Linked DNA regions of Homo sapiens. The protein of the gene in region 1 interacts with the protein of each later gene in a pairwise test. Each region holds a gene or a part of one and is shown in the gene's direction. Other genes may lie near its edges.

Region 1 (7,039 bases):
CCTTCACCTCCCAGGTTCAAGCAATTCTGCCTCAGCGTCACGAGTAGCTTGGATTACAGGCACGTTCCACCATGCCCAGCTAATGTTTGTATTTTTAGTAGAGACGGGGTTTCACCATCTTGGTCAAGCTGGTCTCGAACTCCTGACCTCAGGTGATCCACCCGCCTCAGCCTCCCAAAGTACTGGGATTACAGGCGTGAGCCACCACACCCAGCCAAAATTTTTTTTTAAAAAAGAATTTTCATTCTTTTTCCTTTCCTGGTCCTGAATAAATATTCAATCAAGTCTTTAGACTGTTGGGAAGAATGAATTGGAGAAACAGGGAGACCAGATGAATGAAACCAGACCCTTCGTCCACACATCTTGATTCCCTCTATGGTGGTGTCTTCCTCCTTCCCCAAATCATTGACTGTCCTGTCTTCCAGGTGGAGGCCACAAGCAGGAAAGAAAAGGCCAAGCAGAGGCCCCTGGCCCTGAACACTGTGGAGATGCTGCGTGTGGCCAGCTCTTCTCTGGGTATGTAGGGACATTTCTCTCAAGTCACCAGAAGGCTTCCTGAGGCAGGTTCAGCCTGGAGCAGCGAGTGCCCAGGGTTGCAGGATGGTGCCCAAGGCTTCAAGGGGATCTGAGCCTCAGGAGGATTTCACTTATCCTTAGGTTGTAAAGGTGGTAAAGTTGGTCACCACCTGAGGGGACCTCCTGATGTTAGAGTCCCTGAGCAGCTATCCCTGGTGAGGGGAGAGGCCCCAGCCAGATGTCACCTTCAGGGAACCAGTGTGAACGTCGCCCCTCAGCCTCATCTCCTCAGTCTTTTCTCCTTAGTAACGAGGAGGGGGTTGGGCTGGAAAGCTGGTGGTCTCTGGCAGCTGTCAGCCCCTAGGCATTGGTGCCCCCCACCCCCGCAGGGAACTATGGGCAGTGTCCTCTCAGTGGACACTGAGTGGTGGCTCCAGCGTCCTCAGAGGGCAGCAATGCTGGGAGTGGTTGCTAGCTAAGCGCCTGCCTCTGCTGGTCAGGGAGTAGCAGGACGAGCCCCCCTGAGTGGCCCCAAAGTGCTGTGAGGACAGAAACACCCAAGGGCTCAAAATGGGGCTGCGTGCTAACTCTGTCGTCAGCCAACCCCGAGGTATGGTTATGGCTCCATGGACAATGCATGGGGAGTGGTGCTCTGAAGGCCATGTGTCATCCCCATGGCCATGAGCCCCATGAGGATGCACCGTGGGGTAGAGTGAGTGGCGTTTCCCATCAGGCCCATCCTGGGTGTAGGATTCAGCCTTACGGGTGCGGGATTCAGCCTCATACAAGACTGTGTGGCATAGGTGCCCACCCGGCCAGCAGCTTTGCACTCCAGCTGTGCCTGCTCAGAGCCACCGTCACCCTCCAGGAGGGGCCGGCCACAATGGGGGAGCCTGAGTGCATAGGCCAGGGCAGGCAGCTGGCCATCCCCACGTACCTGGCCCTCTGAGAACCTCCTGTCTCTCGCAGGCATGGGGCCGCAGCACGCCATGCAGACGGCTGAGCGGCTCTACACGCAAGGCTACATCAGCTACCCACGGACAGAGACCACCCACTACCCTGAGAACTTTGACCTGAAGGGCTCTCTGCGGCAGCAGGCCAACCACCCCTACTGGGCCGACACGGTGAGTGGAGCCGGGCCGGCCTCAGCATGTGTGTGTGTCACTGAGGCCTTGGGACCAGGTCTGGTACGTCAGCCAAACCCAGGCAGGCAGCCGAGCCCAGCCACAGACTCTGCTCTGTCTTCTCTCCCTCAGGTGAAGCGGTTGTTAGCAGAAGGTATCAACCGCCCGCGGAAAGGCCATGACGCCGGCGACCATCCCCCCATCACCCCCATGAAGTCTGCCACAGAGGCCGAATTAGGTACCGCTCTCATCCCATACCCGGTGTGCTTCCAGGGAGGGAAGGGCGAGCTGCGACAGTGAAGGTTGCAGGCCCTGTTGGCAATGTGGGGGCTCCTTCAGCCTCTGCCTGCCCTGGCTGTGGGGATGGGGGGCCACCTGGAAGATGAGCTCCATTGCTATGGGACCAGGACAGGAGTGAAGAGGTAGCAGCAGGTGCTGTTGCAGGGAGGCAAGGGGGCAGACGCCACAGGGGACATGAATGAAACCAGGGTAGAGAGTGGCGGTGTGGGGGAGGGGGCAGCACACCTCCTACCTCCCAGCTGGCCTAAGGTGGTACCAGTGGTCCGAGTGCCAGGAGAAGGCAAATGAGGAAGGGAGAGCAGTGCAGGTAGAGACAGGAGCCACCTGTGGACAGTCTGAGTTTGAAGCAATGGTGTCATGTCACGAGACAATGGAAAGACAGGCCAATGCCTGAAGAGCAGTCCCGCCAGAAGCAGGGACAGGAGGTTGTGCAGGATGGTGGGAGCCGCAGCCAGAAAGAAACCACTGAGGCATGGAGGCTTGTGTTCCCTTCCTCCGCATTTGCTTTTTTTTTTTCTTTTTTTGAGACAGAGTCTTGTTCTGTCACCCAGGCTGGAGTGCAGTGGCCCGATCTCGGCTCACTGCAACCTCTGCCTCCCAGGTTCAAGCAGTTCACCCTGCCTCAGCCCCCCGAGTAGCTGGGATTACAGGCTCCCACCACCACACCCAGCTAATTTCTTTGTATTTTTAGTAGAGACGGGGTTTCACCATGTTGGCCAGGCTGGTCTCAAACTCCTGACCTCAAGTGATCCATCCACCTTAGCCTCCCAGAGTGCTAGGATTACAGGCATGAGCCACCACGCCCGGCCTTCCTGCACATTTTCTTTCCTCCTTCCCCAGGATTTGCAGTGTGTCCTGCACAGCGGCTCTGTAAGCAGGAGCTTGCTGCTCGAGCGAGAGTACTGGGGGCTCCTCACGGCCAGAGCCCCCAGCTGGCTCCCAACTGACTAGCCCTGGCCTGTTGCAGGGGGTGACGCGTGGCGGCTCTATGAGTACATCACCAGACACTTCATCGCCACGGTCAGCCATGACTGCAAGTACCTGCAGAGCACCATCTCCTTCAGAATTGGGCCCGAGCTCTTCACCTGCTCCGGGAAGACCGTCCTCTCACCAGGTCACACCACGGGCCCAGCCTTCCTCCTCTGTGCCTTCATGGGCAGACAAACATTCTACATCGTGTCTGGGGATGGGAGGCCCAGGGTCTGAGGCCCCGGCCACCCAGGCTGGGGACCCTGAGTGGCGGCGCATATCTCTCCAGGCTTCACGGAGGTCATGCCCTGGCAGAGCGTGCCCCTGGAGGAGAGCCTGCCCACTTGCCAGCGGGGTGATGCCTTCCCTGTGGGCGAGGTGAAGATGCTGGAGAAGCAGACGAACCCACCCGACTACCTGACGGAGGCCGAGCTCATCACGCTCATGGAGAAGCATGGCATCGGTGGGTGCGCCTGCCCAGGCCCCAGAGCCGGCTCCGTCTCCAGTACTCAGGCTTCGAGTCTACTCACAAAGCTGCCCCGCCAGCCCTGTGTGCCCAGCCCAGCACCCCTCCATGGGCTGGTATCTGGAAACTGGTGACCCAGTGTGTGGCCAGCCAGGCAGGTCCACAGCGGGCATCCCCTCCTGAGGCCTCCATTCAGGACCTGGCCTTCCCTGTGAAGGCCCAGATGTGCCCTCGTGCACTGTGGGGTGTGCACACACCGACTAACGCCCACAAGGCTGAAGATTGGCCCAGATGCCAGGTGACTCATAGAAATCATATTGGCAGTCCCCTGAGTCCACACAGCCAGCCTGGGCTGTCCTGAAATCAGGTGACAGGGAAATGAGATCTCACAGGAGCTGCTTCCCTGGGAGAGAACAGAAATGCCTGTCCCAGGCACAGGGCTCCCCAAAGGGTGACCAGGAAGTTTCCACGCAAAAATGGGCAGCCCAGGGAGTTTATCAAAGCAAAAGTGTAGTCACCAGTGCACACTCCTCACAGGAGTGGTGGCCTCACAAGTCCCCAGGCCTGGAGCTGTGAGATGTCTCACATGTTGGGGGCCAGCCTCACTGCCGGAGCCTTCTCCCCAGGTGGCACTCGCGCCGCTGGGCACTGCCTGTTCCCTGGGGCACTACCCCTGGCTGACAGGCTCTGGAGACCTGTGGGATGTCACAGCCACTGTGTCCAGGCTCTGCTCCAGCAGTGGTCATATAGGTGGACTCTCAGGGAGTGTCTCTTCCCAGGCTGGGGTCCTGGTGACCATGGCGATCTTGGCAGGAGAGCAGAGCTCTGGGCTTGCTCCTCTCAGGGGTCCAGGGCACCTGCCAGGGTCCTGAAATAGCCCTCAGCCCACTGTGGAGTGTGGGCTCTGCTCCCCCGTGTCCTCTGCCCTCTCGCATTGATGGGACACTGGCTCCTGGCAGCCCTATGCTAGCCAGTGAGCCAGACCCAATCACCAATACAAGTTTGTGACAGTGAAGAGGGCTCTGGTGTTACCTTCTGAACAGGAGAGTGGTCAGGGTGGCCCTGTGACTGAGCCCCCAGGAGTGTGTCAAAAGGGCCTGACCAGAGCCGCCACAGAGGAGCCCACACCACGCGTCATGGCGCCCGGCAGACTCGGGGTGGTAGTGGCACACGCCACCCACAGCCTGCCACACCGGGTGCAGAGCTGGCCTCGTGCCAAGAGCCATGGGCCCTCGGCAGGCTCCTTAGCCCCCAGAGGCCAGTTTCTTCCCATGTGAGATTCTCTCCGAGCTACTTTGGGAAGGTGTGTGTCACCTGTCCATGCTGGTGAGCATGCAGGGAGCCCCAGCCTCCTTTCTGCCCCTCTGACTGGCACCCGCCATAGTCAAAACGCCTCAGCCTCCGCTGCGCCCCTCTGCCAGGAAACTTCCTCTGGGTGGGAGAGTGGAATCCTGGGGACTGGGAGCCTCCCCTGGGGATCGTGACGGGCCTTGCAGAGAGGGAGGAGGTGGGAGACAGGAAGTGGACAGAATTGTCCAGGTTTAGGGGAGGGCAGCTCTGCAGTGAGCTTGTAAGCACCTCCGTGTTCTGGTGGAGTGGGGCTCTGGCTCCGGGAGCAGGTGGGTGCCACAGGACCCAGGCAGGAGAAGCCATAGAAGTCACATTTTCCAGGCGCAGAATAAGCACTGTGACCTTGGAGAGTTCCTTAACCTCCGAGCCTGTTGTCTCTGCCATAAAGCAGGAGTAGGCGCCCTGTACAGGGAGGGCTGCCCTTGTGTTCTCAAGGCAGAACATGAAATGCATGCAGTTGGTGCCCAGCACAGTGCAGGGGGAGCTCAGGGCACAGCCCTCCCTCCTGTGACCGGGAGCAGTGAGAGGGCCTGAGCACCAGGGGCCCCGTGACAGGTGATACAGCACATGGTTCAGTGGGGCATGTCCAAGGCAGGCCAGGAACCCTGGGGCCTTGTACATTGCAGGCACGGATGCCAGCATCCCTGTGCATATCAACAACATCTGCCAGCGCAACTATGTCACGGTGGAGAGCGGGCGCCGGCTCAAGCCCACCAACCTCGGCATCGTCCTGGTGCACGGCTACTATAAGATTGGTGAGTTCCTCAGTCCTGCCCCCAGGGCCCACCGAGGCTCCCTGGCTTCTCCCTGGATGTTGGCTCTGCTGCCCGCTCCAGACAGGCCCCTGCCCTACAGTGATCCCCCAGCCCCACACACACTCCCTCAACACCCGCTGAAGGGGTGCTGCCCCAGGACCCCCAGGACCTGCCCAGAGCAGGAGCTCAGTGTGTTTGAAGGCTGAACAGATGTGTGAGGGAACCAAAAAGGGAGGCGAAGTTGCCTCAGCCCTGTTCCCTGGAGGTTCCCCAGGGGCCAAGGGGAGAGGGAGGAGCACAAAACTGGCCCAAGGGCGGCCTGGAGCTCATGTGTGATGTGGTTCTAGCCACAGGACATCCCTGGCCACTCTGCCTGACATTTCCAGGTGGGAAATCAGGAAAGGTCTGGGGTCATAAGAGCCAGCCTGGTACCATCTGAGGCTGTGGACTGGTGGGTAGGGCAGAGGCCAGGAGGACGGGCCAGAGCGGGAGGGGTGAACAGGGCAGTATCCCTGCCTGGGAAGGGGTGGCATGGCCCTGGGTGCGAGTGCTCAGGGCAATATCTGCCCCCTGCCCACTTGCAGATGCAGAGCTGGTGCTCCCCACCATCCGCAGTGCAGTGGAGAAGCAGCTGAACCTGATCGCCCAGGGCAAGGCCGACTACCGCCAGGTCCTGGGCCACACCCTGGACGTGTTCAAGAGGAAGTTCCACTACTTTGTCGACTCCATTGCTGGTAGAGTCTGCCTCTGGCCTGCCCCTCACCAGAGGGGTGTCTCTCTGTCAGCAAGGCCAGTACCTGGGGACCCAGGTCCCCACGTGGGACCAGCTCCCAGATCTGGGCTTCAGGCCTCCGTAGGCCAGGTCAGTGACACCTCCTGGCTGGGTTGAAAGAGCAGGTGCATTAACACCACACATGGCCAGGAACACGTGCCTCTGACGCACAGGGCTGCTGCCCTGCCGTGCTGCCAGGACAGTAGAAACCACCGCCTATAGGGACCCTTTCACACTCAGACCCTTGACCACGTGTTGCGGAGCCTTTTGCTGGGGACTGGGAGGGAGATGACTCCTGCACTCTGCTTGCCCGCAGGCATGGATGAGTTGATGGAGGTGTCTTTCTCGCCCCTGGCGGCCACAGGCAAGCCCCTCTCACGCTGTGGGAAGTGCCACCGCTTCATGAAGTACATCCAGGTAGGTGCAGGGAACACTAGCTCAGGCAAGCTGCCTCACCCCTGTAGGCCTCAGCTTTATCGTTGATCAGCAGGAATCATGTTCTTTGTCCTGGTTGTCACAAAAGAATGATGGAACATAAAGAGGCCTTGCCAAAAAATACCCAGTGTCCCCACGTCCCCTAGAATACACAGCCATTAGGCCACGCAAACACACATGGTGCATTTTTCCCTAACACCATGCCACTTGCCATCATGGGCATTAATGTACACACAGAGATTTTAGAACTGCCTTTTCTGCACGCGTGGAGCAAGAGCCAGAGACTCATGCTCCTTGCCTGGCAGTGTGTCACAGGTTCTGCATGACAGATTACATACTTTGTATTATGAGA
Region 2 (7,039 bases), on another chromosome or scaffold:
GCCCCTAGATAGCTTCAGGATGGGGACTGGTCACCAGAAGGACCAACCATGTGATTAAAGGGTTGGAACTTTGGGCCAGCTCAACCTTCAGGGAAGGTAGTGGGGCTAGGTATTAAGTTCAATCACAACCAATGGTTTAATCAATCTTGCCTATGTAATAAAACCCCAGTGAAAACTTTGAACTTCAGGGATAAGTGGAGCTTCTTGGTTGGTGAACATATTGTTCTCTAGGGAGAGTGGTGTACCCTGACTCCATAAGGAGAGGGTATGGAAGCTTTGTGTCCAGAATGCTTTCAGACCTTGTCCTGTGTATATCCTTAAATGAAACTGTAATAATAAGAATAGCACTTTTCTTGAGTTCTACGAGTTGTTTCAGTTAATTATGAAACCTCATAATGTCATAGGAACTCCTGAATTTATAAGTGGTCAGTCAGAAGCATGGGTGGCTTCCTGAGAATTGGGGCTGGTATCTGATCTAAAGTGGGGGCAGTATTGTTGGTGATTGTGCCCTTAAACCTGTGGAGTCCAATGCTAACTCCAAGTAGTTGGTTTCAAATATTTGATATCAGAACAATAGTGTAATTTTCCCTAGTTTTAGCAGCCACACCTAGATTAATATACATAAAGCTTACCTTTGCTGTGTATTCTACATCAACAAGTTAAAATGAAGGATTCAGACCCAACAGTGTATTATGGGTGAAAAAAGCAGTCTGTTTTTGTGGCATGTACCTGTAATTTAGATAATTTTTAAAATTATCTATGTATCTATTTATCTATATCTATCTATGTGTCTATCTATCTAATCTATCTATCCATCTATCCTGTCATCATTTTTTTTCTTATCACAGCTCCCTTAGCCTAGAATTCCTGTTGTGGGTATTGCATTTATATTTAGAAAACTTCAAATTGTGGCCTGATTAAATACTTCTAAGTCCCAAATGTACTCCAAAGCAGATACTTAAACAGTTTATGCCTGTAGAATTTTTTAATCTCAGCCGAAGAGCAGGGTGACTGGTGTGTGTGTGTGTGTGTGTGTGTGTGTGTGTGTGTATCCAAGCAAAATGATGATTGCCTTTGTTCTGACTTGTAGCGGGTAGAATCCTTCCTCAATTATTTTTCTGGGGTGTAGTTGAAATAAAAACTTCATCATTCACTCAGTCCTCTTGTTCCTTCTCCCTTTTTTGATAAATATTATGGGCTACTTTATATAATAGAGGCTACTTCAGATGTCACTTGGCCTAAAATGTTGTTGTGTGGGGATAGTATCAGAGTGAATTTTTCATCTGTCTAGTCTGGACTTTTAGCAGCCACTAATTCTCAACTCTGCCCCCAATTTCAAAAGAGCAACCTTCAATGGGATCTCATCTATAAAATACCACCAGATTTTCTATCAAGGCTTTCACAACCTTGCACCCTTTAATACAAGTCTGCCTTTCTATCTCCATCTCTCATAACATTCTTCCAAGTCAAGGCCAGGACTAGAATGAAATGAAGAAAGAAGCTCTTGTTCTCAAGTGCCTCACACTATTCCAGGCCTTGCCCCACTTTGCCTGCAGTCAAGCCCCACTGGAAAATCTGTTGTTTTCCCAACTGTATTGTGTGCTTTACTACTTTTATGCCTTTCCCACATGCTGTCCCTTCAATCTTCAATGTTCTTACCCTTTTTCTGTCTATGGGAAACATCATTTGGGCTCAGTTCAAATGCCAGGGCCTTTTTGAAGTCTGATACCTCCTCGCCCTTATCCCTTGCCCCTTGGTAGGAAGTAATTCCTCCATTCTTTGTACTTACACAATATTTTATTTGCCACTTGGCCACTTGTTTCTTTTTTTTTTTTTTTTTGAGACGGAGTCTCACTTCGTCACCCAGGCTGGAGTGCAGTGGCACGATCTCAGCTCACTGCAACTTCTGTCTCCCAAGTTCAAGCGATCCTCCTGCCTCAGCCCCGCTAGTAGCTGGGATTACAGGCACACACCACTGATTTTTGCACCATTAATTTATGCCCGGCTAATTTTTGTATTTTTAGTGGAGACAGGGTTTTGCCATGTTGGCCAGGCTGCTCTTGAACTCCTGACCTCAGGTGATCCACCCGCCTCGGCCACCCAAAGTGCTGGGATTACAGGCGTGAGCCACTGCGCCCATCCCACTTGTTTCTTTATACCATGCATCAGAGTCTTTTTATTTTTTTATTTTTATTTTTTAATGAATAACATAGAACTAGTGTTGAGGGACAGGAAGCATAGAGAAAGAAGCTTGGACTCTGGAAGTGTGATTCAAACCCCAGTCTGTCTGACTGCAAAGCCTGAATGTTTACTACTTAAAATAGTAATTTGTGTTAATATTAAGATTTATTGGATTTATTGGGTGATTTCTATGTGCCAGGGTACTCTACTAAGGGCTCTAAATGTATTCACTTAGTTAATCCTCAAAACAAACTTATGAGGTAGGTGCTGCTATTGTTTCCATTCTACATATGAGGAAGCTGAGGCACACATTGGTTAAGTAGCTTAGCCAACCTCACTGAGTTGGTTAGCAGAGGAGGTGACATTCCCACCTTTGTGGTTTGAATCTGGAGCTGATGTGCATTACTTCTATGCTATGTCTATATTCCTCCAGTGCTAGTTATCAATAAAAGCATCCATGATCATTGTAACTGTTTTTACAATCAGATCTTCTGTTCCTCAAAGCTTGTAGCAAAGTATTTATCATAAAGAAATTAAACCTGAATATTGTTAGACCTCCTGTCCCTTATCCTTTTTTCCCTGTTTATCAGCCTATTCCACCCTTTCCTTCCTTCCCAACCCAATGCCCATCACAGTACTTATTTTTACTACTCTTCTACCTCATCCTCTAGTGCCTGGCTCCACTGTCCTGGAGAAACCCCAACTCTGGATAAATCTCAAGTATCTACGACTTTCTATACCTTTGTTGTTTAGTGCACCTGGGAAAATTAATCATATTGTTCTAACTGTCGACACTGTAAATGTGTCTTTCTCAATATCAGCACAGTCCCCTGAACTGAAAGCAGGTAACCTTTGATATCTTTATAATCTGGATATTTCACAAGGGTGCACCTTCACACAATGATCCTCTGAATTGAAACTAGGTTTATCTATTATCTTAAGTATTTAATGTACCTCTGGACCTCCTAGATAAGTCAGAGTTTGGCTTCTGCCTAAAGCTTTACTTTTTAATCTGGAGCAGAAGCCAAACAGTTGTCAGACCTCTAGCAATCATTAGGACACGTGTTGAGAATTTCTGGCTTTTCTTTCCTGGGAAACATGAGTTCTGCTACTGCAGATGTAGGTGCTCACTGATGCTCACTGATGGACACAAGTCAGGAATTCTTACTCACTGAAGAGCTGTTTTGTGCCTGAGCACATCTAGGATTGTTCCATTTTCATATAACAAGGAATTCAACTAAAACTAACTTAATAAGGAAATTAATTATCCAATGATTGTAAGTACTGACGTAGGGCAGCCTTGATGGTTGTTTAATTCAGCGAAGGACTCAGCTTTTTTCCGTCTCTTTCTTCTGCCATTCACAATATCAACTTCCGTCCTAAGGCTGATAGCTTGATGGCTACAACAATTCCAGGAGGTAAGCAACTTCCTGAGGAAGAAGAAAAGACAATCTTTTCTGATGACTTTGTCTTATGAATGAGGACACTTTCCTCAGAAGTCCATCTGTAACCTTCCCCTAATGTCACATTGAGTGGAATTTGATCAATGCCTCTTCCTAAACAAGAGAGTACCAAGGGGATAGATTATCCGTAGACCAAAGAGACTCACTCTTGGAAATGGAATTAGCCTCTCTGTGACATGTGACTAAAAGGAGGAGAAAGTCAGTAACCTGCAGTGGCAACTATGCAAAAATGGCATCCTTTTAGTAAAGGGTTATGGTAAGCAACACAGAATATACAAAGCACTGAGGCTACAGCACAAAGAGCACAGTGACACTGACTTAGCAATTATGACCTTTAAAAACCATGTAGTTCTCATCTATTCTTTCTTGCTTTCTCCAGCCCACTCCATAATAGGAATAGATCAGAAATTTTAAAAGAACTAGAAAGATCTGATATACACATGTTGTGCAGGATATCAAATAGTTTTCTCAGTATACACAATAATCCTGTAAAGTAGTTAATGCCAGCTCCCTTTTAAGGATGAAGAAACTGGGTTATAAAGACGTTAAGTACCTTTGCTAAAGTTACACAAATAGTGACAAAGTCTGTATTCAGACTTTGGACTGTCTGGCTCTGAAATCTGGGTACTCCCAACTCTTCTGTACAAACTCCCTTTAGAATGTACTCCCAGGGCTCAGAAACTAGTTACTCTAGTCTAAGCAAGCACTTAACAATCATTAGGCAGTTAATGTAAACTATAGATTCTAATAGTATCATGCACTGCCTCTTGATGGTGGTGGTGGTGGTAGTGACATAGACAACTTTTCTCTCCTAGCATTAAGTTACAGTTCCTCAGACTTCATTACCAATAATATATATATTTTTCAATTTTTAAAGATTTTTTGTAGAAACAAGGTATAACTGCATTGCCCAGGCCAGTCTTGAATTCCTGCACTCAAGTGACCCTCCCACCTTGGCCTCCCAAAGTGCTGGAATCACAGGCATGAGCCATTGTGCATGGCCATTACCAGGAATTTTGATTCAGGAGGTCAAAAGTCTAATTTGCATTGCACATTACAAATTTTTGGGCTGAGATGTCAGGTTCAGGGAGCCCCATAAATTTCCTGTACCTGGGAGTGAAAAGAGCTAATATTTATGGAGCAGCTGGGTTTTCCAGGGCAACCTAATTCCCAGATGTGATGTTCAGCAGAAAAGAAGCAGACAAAAGCAATGTGCACTGCTTTTTTTTTTTTTTTTTTTTTTTTTTAAATAGAGAGGGGGTCTTGCTATGTTGCCTAGGCTGCTCTTGAGCTCCTGGACTTAAGCGATCCTCCCACCTTGGACTCCCAAAGTGCTGAGATTAAAGGTGTGAGCCACCACACCCAGCCCATTTTAAATTTTTTATTTTTTATTTTTCACTGCTCTTTAGCTTCCCTGTTAAAACCCATAGCCAGACTTCCAGTTTCAGTTCCAACATGTAAGAACTTGTAAGTCATTGCTCCTGTACTTACAACCAGAAAAAAATCTGAACAAACAGAATCAACAACATTTCTTAGATTCTTCAAAGAACTGAGGCATAGGACAGTTGACTACCCCAAATTCTGAAGGCAAATCCAGAGAGTCACAGCCTATTTCTTCTTTCATAGAACAGAAACTGCTAGAGACATAAATAGGTAAGAGCACTTAAATGTAATTTTGATGAATTGCTGGAGACTGAGTGTGGAATAATATGAGAGTGAGAAACCCCTGAGGATCTGCAGTCAGGGAGGTCCCCACACTTTTGTGGGCATTACTTCCAAGAAACCCACCATATTCTTGCAGTGAAGGGCCTCATGGCCCCTGCAGTGGGAAGGGAACTGTACTTTTGTGAAATACACCCAGAGCCTTCTTCATTTTTTAAAAAAAAAGCCTATTCTGTGGTGGAAAAGACTTTATCAGAGCCTTATCTCAGCTGAGGGAAAGGCGTTTCTCCTATTTCAGCCCCCTTTAGGTTTCTAGTCTCATGTAAGGGAGAGAAAGGCGCTAAAATAAAACTCTTATGAAAATCAAAGCCCAGGGACACAGGCCCACAAAAGACTGAAATTTAATCATAATATTATAGAACACTTCCTCTCCTCTGCACTTCACCACCATGCTAACAAGGCTTTATTATAATAATAGTGGATAACAGTGAATAACAGTTAAAAGAGCTGCAAAATGTAAACTCTCCCTGAGAAGAATATTTAGGGAAATGCTAGAAATCAAAAATACTGTAACAGAGCCCAGGCACAGTGGCTCACGCCTGTAATCCCAACACTTTGGGAGGCTGAGGTGGGTAGATCACCTGAGGTCAGGAGTTCAAGATCAGCCTGGCCAACATGGAGAAACCCCATCTCTACTAAAAGTACAAAAATTAGCTGGGCGTGGTGGCGGGTGCCTGTAATCCCAGCTACTCAGGAGGCTGAGGCAGGAGAATCGCTTGAACCCGGGAGGTGGAGGTTGCAGTGAGCCGAAATTGTGCCACTGCACTCCAGCAAATGAAGAATGCCTTTGATGGGATTATCAGTAGACTGGACACAGTTGAGGAAAGACTCAGCAAGCTTGAGTAGCAGTCCCCAATCTTTTTTGGCACCAGGGGCAGATTTCGTGGAAGACAATTTTTCCATAGACTGGGGGGCGAATGGCATGGTTTCAGGACAATTGAAGTGCATTACATGTATTATGTACTTTATTTCTATTATTATTACATTGTAATAGATAATGAAATAATTATACAATTCACCATAATGTAGAATCACTGGGAGCCCGGAGATTGTTTTTGTAAAGCTAGATGGTCCCATCTTGGGGTGATGGGAGGCAGTGACAGATCATCAGGCATTAGATTCTCATAAGGAGCATGCAACCTAGATCCTTCACATGTGCAGTTCACAATACGGTTTGTGCTCTTATGAGAATCTAATGCCACTGCTGATCTTCCAGAAGGCGGAGCTCAGGCGGCAATGAAAGTGATGGGGAGTGGCTGTATATACAGATGAAGATTTACTGGCTAGCCCGCCACTCACCTCCTGCTGTGTGACCCAGTTCCTAACAGGCCATGGACGGGTCCAGGTCCGTGGCCTAGGGGCTGGGGACTCCTGAGCTTGAAGATAGGTCAATAGTGTAAACTAAAAAGTATGTAAGACATGTCTCAATTGATTTAGAAGTTTATTTTGCCAAGGTGAAGACATTCCCAGAAGAAAAGAGCATGGAATCACAGAAACAGTCTGTGGTCTGTGCCTTTATCCAAAGATAATTTTGAGGGCTTCAATATTTAAATGGAAACAGCAGGCTAGAGGGGAAGAGGGAGGGTACAGTAATCCACATGATGCAAGGGAAAAGGAGCAGAAACAGGAATAGTCAATTCTGTATTCCTCTGGCTCACAGTAAATCAGCACTT
Region 3 (7,039 bases), on another chromosome or scaffold:
TTTGTTCAACGTACCTGTGTAATGACGCATCTGAAAAATTCCTTTTAAATGTTAGTGACAGTAAGGTTTTTCTCTCTGAATTACAGAGCTTGCTGTGATTGCTTTTTTGTTGTTTTATTGTTGTTTGCTGCCACTGTCTTTAAGTCTAGAGCTAAAATTATTGTTTGATTAAGGTAGCCATATTTGGTTAGATTTTTGCTAGATTCCTACTTTGGGTGAATTTGATCTGTTTTTTTCTTGTAATGATTTTATGTTTGAGGTCTCTCAGATACCTTTGGAACCAGGCAGGGTTTGCTACTTAAGAGAACTGGTGGCATCAAACTGGAGACCTAGGAAAGATATATTTGTACTTTAGGTAAAATAGACTTGATAGTCTACATGTAGTAAAGGTTTTGTTGAATGGTCCAGATAATATCTGTTTCATTTAGCATCAGAATGCAGTAAATCAGAATCTTGCAAATGGTAAAATTGTGCTTAATTTAAAAAAATAATGTTTTGTTTTCTAATGTTGTTTTCCATGTCAATTTAAAATTCTTCTAATATATGGTAATTCAGGAAAGTTTCTTTGCTCTTGTTGATAATGGTCCCAAAAGATATCTTCCATATAGAAAATACACTGACCATTCTCTTTCGTCCCCCCTCCACATAAAAATGCATGTTAAAATTTACAATTATACAGACTTTTAAAAATATAATTTAAGAAGCGAAGAGCATCAGCAAACTATTGTAAGTCGTCCTCTGTGCATAGGGTTGGAAAATTTTTTTAAATCCATACCTATTTTGTCACTATCTTTAAAGCGTTTGATCATGGCTATGAATGGTTTGGAAATTTGCAGACAAGATAAACCTTACTGAACCAAGCTCTAACCCTGGAGACATCGAGCTGCCATTCAGCTTTTTCTTTTGTTCCTTTCATGAACTCTTCTCTGTAACCCACTTCTTGCTGGGAATGGATTTGCAGCTTCCCTTTCAGTCATATTTTCCCTAACGTTGAAATGTTTCCCATTAATAAAACAGGTGTAAGTATTTTTGCTGAACCATTTCAAAGACATTGCAGACATTGGGACTGTTGTACCTAAATATTTGAGCTTACTTCTCAAGAGATAAAAATACTGTTCTGTGAAACCACAATACTATTATCACATTTTACAAAATTAATAATTCCCTGGTGTCTTTAACACTCTGCCTGAATTGTCTGCAAAAATGTCTTTTATAACTGGTTATTCAGCCAGAGACCAATCGAAGACCCCGAGTTAAATGCGTTTGTAACGTGTATTTAAGGCTTAAGGCTTAGCCATTTGCTCACTTTATGATCTAAGGCAGTTTACTTTCATATGTCATGTCAGTTTTATATGGAGTGGACAAAATGGGAATAGACACTACCTATTTTGTGGAGCTGCTGTGAGAATTAAATGAGACAGCCTACGTAAAGCTTATAGTACAGGGCTAGGCATAAAACAGGTGCCCTATGTGGCTCTTTGCAGGGCACTGAGATAGATTTCTTTCAGGCTGAGCTTCATTTTCAGATAACCCTGTGAAGAAGGTATTACCCCCATTTAACTGATGAGAAAGCCAAGGTCAAGTTAGTTGCCCGAGACAGCAAACATTTTTTTAAAGCACTTTATTCATTTAGTCTTCTTAAAAATCCTGCGAGGTAGTTGGTATTATTATCCCTATTATAATAGGGAGAAGTGAGGCACAGAGAGGTGAAGTCCTTTCCTCAAGGTCATCCTGTGAGTAACTGAAGGAGCTGGGAATGGAGCACTCCAGTAGCCTGGTTCAGGAAGGTCTCTGTGCTCTTAACTAACCACTATGAACCATTGGGGTGGTCCAGCCTCAGTCGTTCTGACTCAGAGCTCGCAGCCTTTCTGCCAATCATGCTTGTTCATTATTCTTCTGAACTGGTGACAATCTGTCATTGCCATCATTTTTCTCACTTCACTTATCTTCCCAGAAAATGCTGTGAAGCATGAGGGGCATACTGAATTAAAATGGATTTAAATAAATTTGGGCTTGAGAATTCTGTGATACACCTCAAAGATAATGGGAGTAGTGCAAATTCAGAGTTGGTTATTATTGGAATGTTAGATCTATGTTAACTGAAATAACAGTTGTGGAAATTAAACCGATACAGTGAGTATTGATCCATTTTCTTTGTGTTTGCCTTAAAAAGGGAGGTATGTTTCTACCAGGGGGTATGGTTCTACTATACATGAGTAGAACCCTTAAATGTTAAAAATATGGAGTTGACTGTGCAGAATTAGAATCTTGATTTATTCCTCAGAAAATCCCCACACTACTGGAGACCCAGGCCTGGAGGATGATAGCTTGAGGCCAGGAAAACCAGCCTGGGCAACACAGTGAGACCCTGTCTCTACCAAAAAAATAAAAAATAAAAATTAGCCGCGTGTGGTAGCGCACACCTGTAGTCCCAGCTACTCAGGAGGCTGAGGGGAGAGGATGGCTTCAGGCCAGGAGGTCGAGGCTGCAATGAGCTGTGATCGTACCACTGCACTCTAGCCTGGGCGACAGAGTGACACCCTGTCTCCAGGAAAAAAAAATCTTAAAAGTAAGAAAAAACAAAAAAAACCTGAAAAGACCTTAAGGAGCTTGTAAGCTAGGACCTGTCATAGTATAAACTTAAGTGCCTAGTGCAAGGCTGAACAGCTAGTGAGGTGGTAGACCTGGAGTGGACTAAGCTCCATCAGCTGGTTGTGGTCTGGGTTTGTTTCCATGGGAATATTAGCAAATGCAACCTCCTTTCTAACTAAAGCTGGTCCCCTCTGCTTTCCTGTCCTTTTATCCAGTACAATATATACAAAGTGGATCAGTAGCAATACCCAAAACTGTTTTGCCTTAGCAATTTGCTTACTCTTGCTTTTATTCTGAAATTCTCTTCTTTCTTCCTTCACTTCTCCAGTAGGTGACATTCTGCTCATGCCCCCAGCCATCTCTGAGCCATTGCGTTTGGGTGGTCCTTTTTGACTTTCCCACCATAACCCCCTCCTCCCAGTCAAAATCAAGTCAAAGTCAAAATGCAAGTCAAAATCAATGTCTGTGTGTATTATTTTTTTCCCTACATTACATGGCAATTATTATTTCAAGTTGGGCTTATACCCAGCTAGATTCTGCATCCGAATTTGAGTTTTTTGGATTCAAGGTTACTTCTCAAATGCCTAGTTTTCTAGTTGTTGGCCCAACACCATTGGGCACATTGTGGTTGCTTAATGTCTATTGAATAAAATAATGGATTTAATTATTTTAAAGTGCTGTTTCATCCCTACTGACTAATGCAATAATTACAATTGTTGTATTTGGTTAACTTAGGGTATATATATATATAAGCCTCCTGAGAAACTCAACCATGTTCACATTGAGCCTCTGGTATTTTGTGGAAATTCCATGCAGAACTATCTGGTGGTAGTGATCTGTCATTGGTAACTCAAAACCCATTTTTATTCCATTCATTGTTGCGAGAACTGACAAGTAAAAAATCTTGACCACAATAAGACAGGGCCTGTTTCTATGCCTCTGTAGGAGAATCTCTGCAGAAATCACAGTATTAACAATTTTCAATAGCTGCAGGGTTCTGCTGGAGTCTTAACACTTGAGGGTGGATACAGCTGTGCTGATGAACTCCAATATTGGCATCATTCTTGTATTGCCGGCTGAACACAAATACAGTCTAACAGCAAAATTTTCAGAAATTGAACAAGTGATAATAGAGGCAGACCAGAAAGTTTTGGTGTATGTGATTATTTGTTTGGGCTTGTTTTTACTAAGGTAAATTAGGCCGAGTTTTTTAAAAAGACCCCGTCATCTCAATAAACTTGATAACTTATTCTTAGAAATATTTAAAAATTACTATTTAAATCTAGAACATTGTGATGGTGCTTTTAAGGCATTTTCTAGGGCTCTTAGTGACTTTGAAGTAGAAGAAATATTTTGTATTGATGCTCCAGTGCCCCGTGGAACAAAATATATTTTTTATATGCTTTCCCTGGATAGACATGAAGGATTGTTACATCTTGACATATGTCCCATGTCATGGAAAGAAAGTCAGGCCAGGATCATGGGAGTTTGCTAAATTAAGTAACAATTGTTTCATAACTACCCATTTCCCTTTCTCATGTAACCTTTATCAACATTATGTTCACATGTGGCATATTGCACACGTATTATCAAATTGTGCTTATGTTCTTCCTGCTACTCTCAAAGGGTAGTTGAATATTTATTTAAAAACAAACTTTCTGTGTTTACTTGCACTTAGAGGGTAAAGGTAAAGAAACAGATTTTGACTTCACCCTTAGCATTTAACACTTGTGATTGAAGAGATTAGAACAAATATTGGGAGCTTCTAAAATGTATGGTTTTGGCTCCTCTGTGTCCTGAAATAACGATTTTTCAGATCTGGTTGTTTTTATTCTTTGATATATTTCCTGTGGTCCATTTATAAATGCTTAAAACTTAATTATCAGTTAAGTTTTTAATTGACTTTCATTTGTTCATCTGGTAATGACATCTTTGTCTTTTCATTTTCATTATTTATTCCTCTTGTTTCTTTTTCTTACTGCTTTGCTTTGGCTCTGGCCTCCAGTACTGACTTTTCAGATACGCACTGTTTATTTTGTATTTGCATCCATACTAACTGAGAATGCACAGAGAAGCTTGGCCCATCTGTCTTTCTAGGTGTGGGAATAGGTTTGTTTGTTTGTTTGTTTGTTTTTGAAACAGACTCTTGATCTGTTGTCCAGGCTGGAGTATTCCAAGTGATCCTTCTGCCTTGGCCTCCTGAGTAGCTGGGATTGTAGGTGTGCGCCACCACACCTGGCTAATTTTTAAATTTTTAGTAGAGGTGAGGTCTTCTTAACGTTGCCCAGGATGGCCTTCAGCTCCTAGCCTTAAGCAGTCCTCCTGTCTCGACCTTCCAGAGTGCTGGGATTATAGGCATGAGCCACCTGCACCTGGCATGGGAATAGCTTTATCTTTTATTTTTATTACTTTTTTTTTAGAGATGGGGTCTTGCTCTGTTGCCCAGGCTGGAGTGCAGGGGTGCAATCATGGCTTACTGGAGCCTTGAACTCCTGGGCTCAAGCAGTGCTCCCATCTCAGCCTCCCAAGTAGCTGCGACCACAGGTGTACACCACCATGCCCTTTGAGAATAATTTATTAACCCTCATACCCATGGCCTGGCAGAACACTGAGCACATAGTAGGCTTTCTGTAAACAGTTATCAATTGGTTGAAGTAACTATTCATTAATTGAAAAAATAATTGTACCGTGTATAAAAATTTAACAATTTTTCACAATTTAACAATTATCTTTTTTGGATACCTATATCCAAAAAAGACTTTGAGTTGCTTTTTCAAAACTACTAAAGGAGAGGCTGCCATGATGGTAGTGGAAGAATCATGGACTTTGGAGTGAGACCGTACCTCTTCCCCTGCCACTAAGGGACCCTGCTAAGTATCCCAAGCCACCAGCCCTGGATTAATGTAAATGAGGTTCATTCTGCTGTATACCTAATAGGCTGTTAAAAAGTAGAAATGGACCAGGCATGGTGGTTCATGCCTGTAATCCCATCACTTTGGGAGTCCGAGGTGGGCCGACCACCTGAGGTCAGGAGTTCGAGACCAGCCCAACCAAGATGGAGAAACCCCATCTCTACTAAATATACAAAATTAGTTGAGCATGCTAGCACATGCCTGTAATCCCAGCTACTCGGGAGGCTGGGGCAGGAGAATCGCTTGAACCTGGGAGGCGGAGGTTATGCCAAGCAGAGATCGTGCTAAGCAGAGATTGCACCATTGCACTCCAGCCTGGTCAACAAGAGCAGAACTCCATCTCAAAGAAAAAAAAAAAAAAGCATAAATGAGGTAGCCTTGGTAAAACATTTTAGCACAGCACCTGAGAAATTGAGATTCAGTAGCATCCATCTACCCCAGGTCTGTCCCCCATCATGTAATAAGGTGTTCTTTCTTTTCAGAATTTACAAGGCAGAGGAGATCCATGAACTTTACAAGGCAGGAAACAAGATTTTCACTTTGTACCTTAGAGAGCTGAAATGACTTGCTCAAGGCTCCTCAGGGAGCTTGTGGGAGGATAATTAGGATTTAGAAGTCATGTTCTAAGACTGACTGTTTCTTTTGGCTTTCTAATGGTGTCCTGGTAGTTTTTGTACTGTGATAATCAATAATGCCCAGCTGACCATTGGCCCCTTTACTCAGTGATCCCAGTTGGCTGTGCTTTTTGAGATTCTGAGTTTTATAGCTTGTCTGTTCTCTTAGGGTAAGAGTACCTACCTGTAATAGCATCCTTGGCTCCCCTGCCATCCCTACGCCATTCCTGATATGTGGTCTAGATACCTTATTACCAGCAGCATTCAAATTCTCTCTAAAACAAAAGTCAGTAGGCTTGGTGTGGATGGGTGGGACTGACCATCCTCTTAGGAGTCACTTGGCTTATGACATGTTTTGTCTACTTGAATGCCATGTTTGGCATTTCATTTTATTTTTCCAGCCAAGGAATAAAGTGGACGATGGAGTGGGAATACAGACATAGTGCTAGACTAGAGGTTTAATTTATCAACATCCCAGTAATTTTACTCATTTTTATAGATCTTTTAAAGCAGCGTAAGTGTGACTATAGTCTTAATATAGTTATTACATTTCTCCCTTTTGCTTAAAGGTTAAGTCAAGTTTGATTTTTTTCTCAGGCTCAGACTCGCAAAGCAAATCTGCCTTGCTAGAATGATGTGCCTGGGCTCAACAGCTCACCTCTGGCCCTGAAGGCCTAATAATTGGTTGCCTTCTCATTGATCTGTGTGTGAGCACACTTCAGAACAGTACTCTGCTGTTTGTTAAAATAAAAAACAACAACAAAAAACCTTTGAAGACCTTACCGTCCATTCTAAGATGTCTTTTGTACTAAGGAAAATTGGGGATACTAGATTATAGGTGTTGATTTGGAGTGTGATATACTGTGAATCGGAATAACTTGAATTTAGAATGTACTTAGGCCCCAGTTGCAAAATTATGTG

The links.
Region 2: the proteins of TOP3B (region 1) and GPRASP3 interact in binary tests that used the Homo sapiens proteins (3 or more experiments, as listed by UniProt).
Region 3: the proteins of TOP3B (region 1) and SPRED2 interact in binary tests that used the Homo sapiens proteins (3 or more experiments, as listed by UniProt).

Annotation. Positions count from the first base shown.
Region 1 is NC_000022.11:21,958,762-21,965,800, reverse strand, and holds part of TOP3B (DNA topoisomerase 3-beta-1), read left to right. Parts: intron 1-425; coding exon 426-516; intron 517-1,485; coding exon 1,486-1,640; intron 1,641-1,772; coding exon 1,773-1,878; intron 1,879-2,907; coding exon 2,908-3,054; intron 3,055-3,198; coding exon 3,199-3,372; intron 3,373-5,351; coding exon 5,352-5,480; intron 5,481-6,064; coding exon 6,065-6,214; intron 6,215-6,568; coding exon 6,569-6,669; intron 6,670-7,039. UniProt on the Homo sapiens protein: Releases the supercoiling and torsional tension of DNA introduced during the DNA replication and transcription by transiently cleaving and rejoining one strand of the DNA duplex.
Region 2 is NC_000023.11:102,723,705-102,730,743, forward strand, and holds part of GPRASP3 (G protein-coupled receptor associated sorting protein 3), read left to right. Parts: exon of another isoform or gene 1-1,157; intron 1,158-7,039. UniProt on the Homo sapiens protein: Survival and differentiation promoting protein that plays a role in the regulation of neurosynaptogenesis. Induces phosphatase PP2A activity which results in APP dephosphorylation and inhibits BACE1-mediated processing of APP.
Region 3 is NC_000002.12:65,422,599-65,429,637, reverse strand, and holds part of SPRED2 (sprouty-related, EVH1 domain-containing protein 2), read left to right. Parts: intron 1-7,039. UniProt on the Homo sapiens protein: Negatively regulates Ras signaling pathways and downstream activation of MAP kinases. Recruits and translocates NF1 to the cell membrane, thereby enabling NF1-dependent hydrolysis of active GTP-bound Ras to inactive GDP-bound Ras.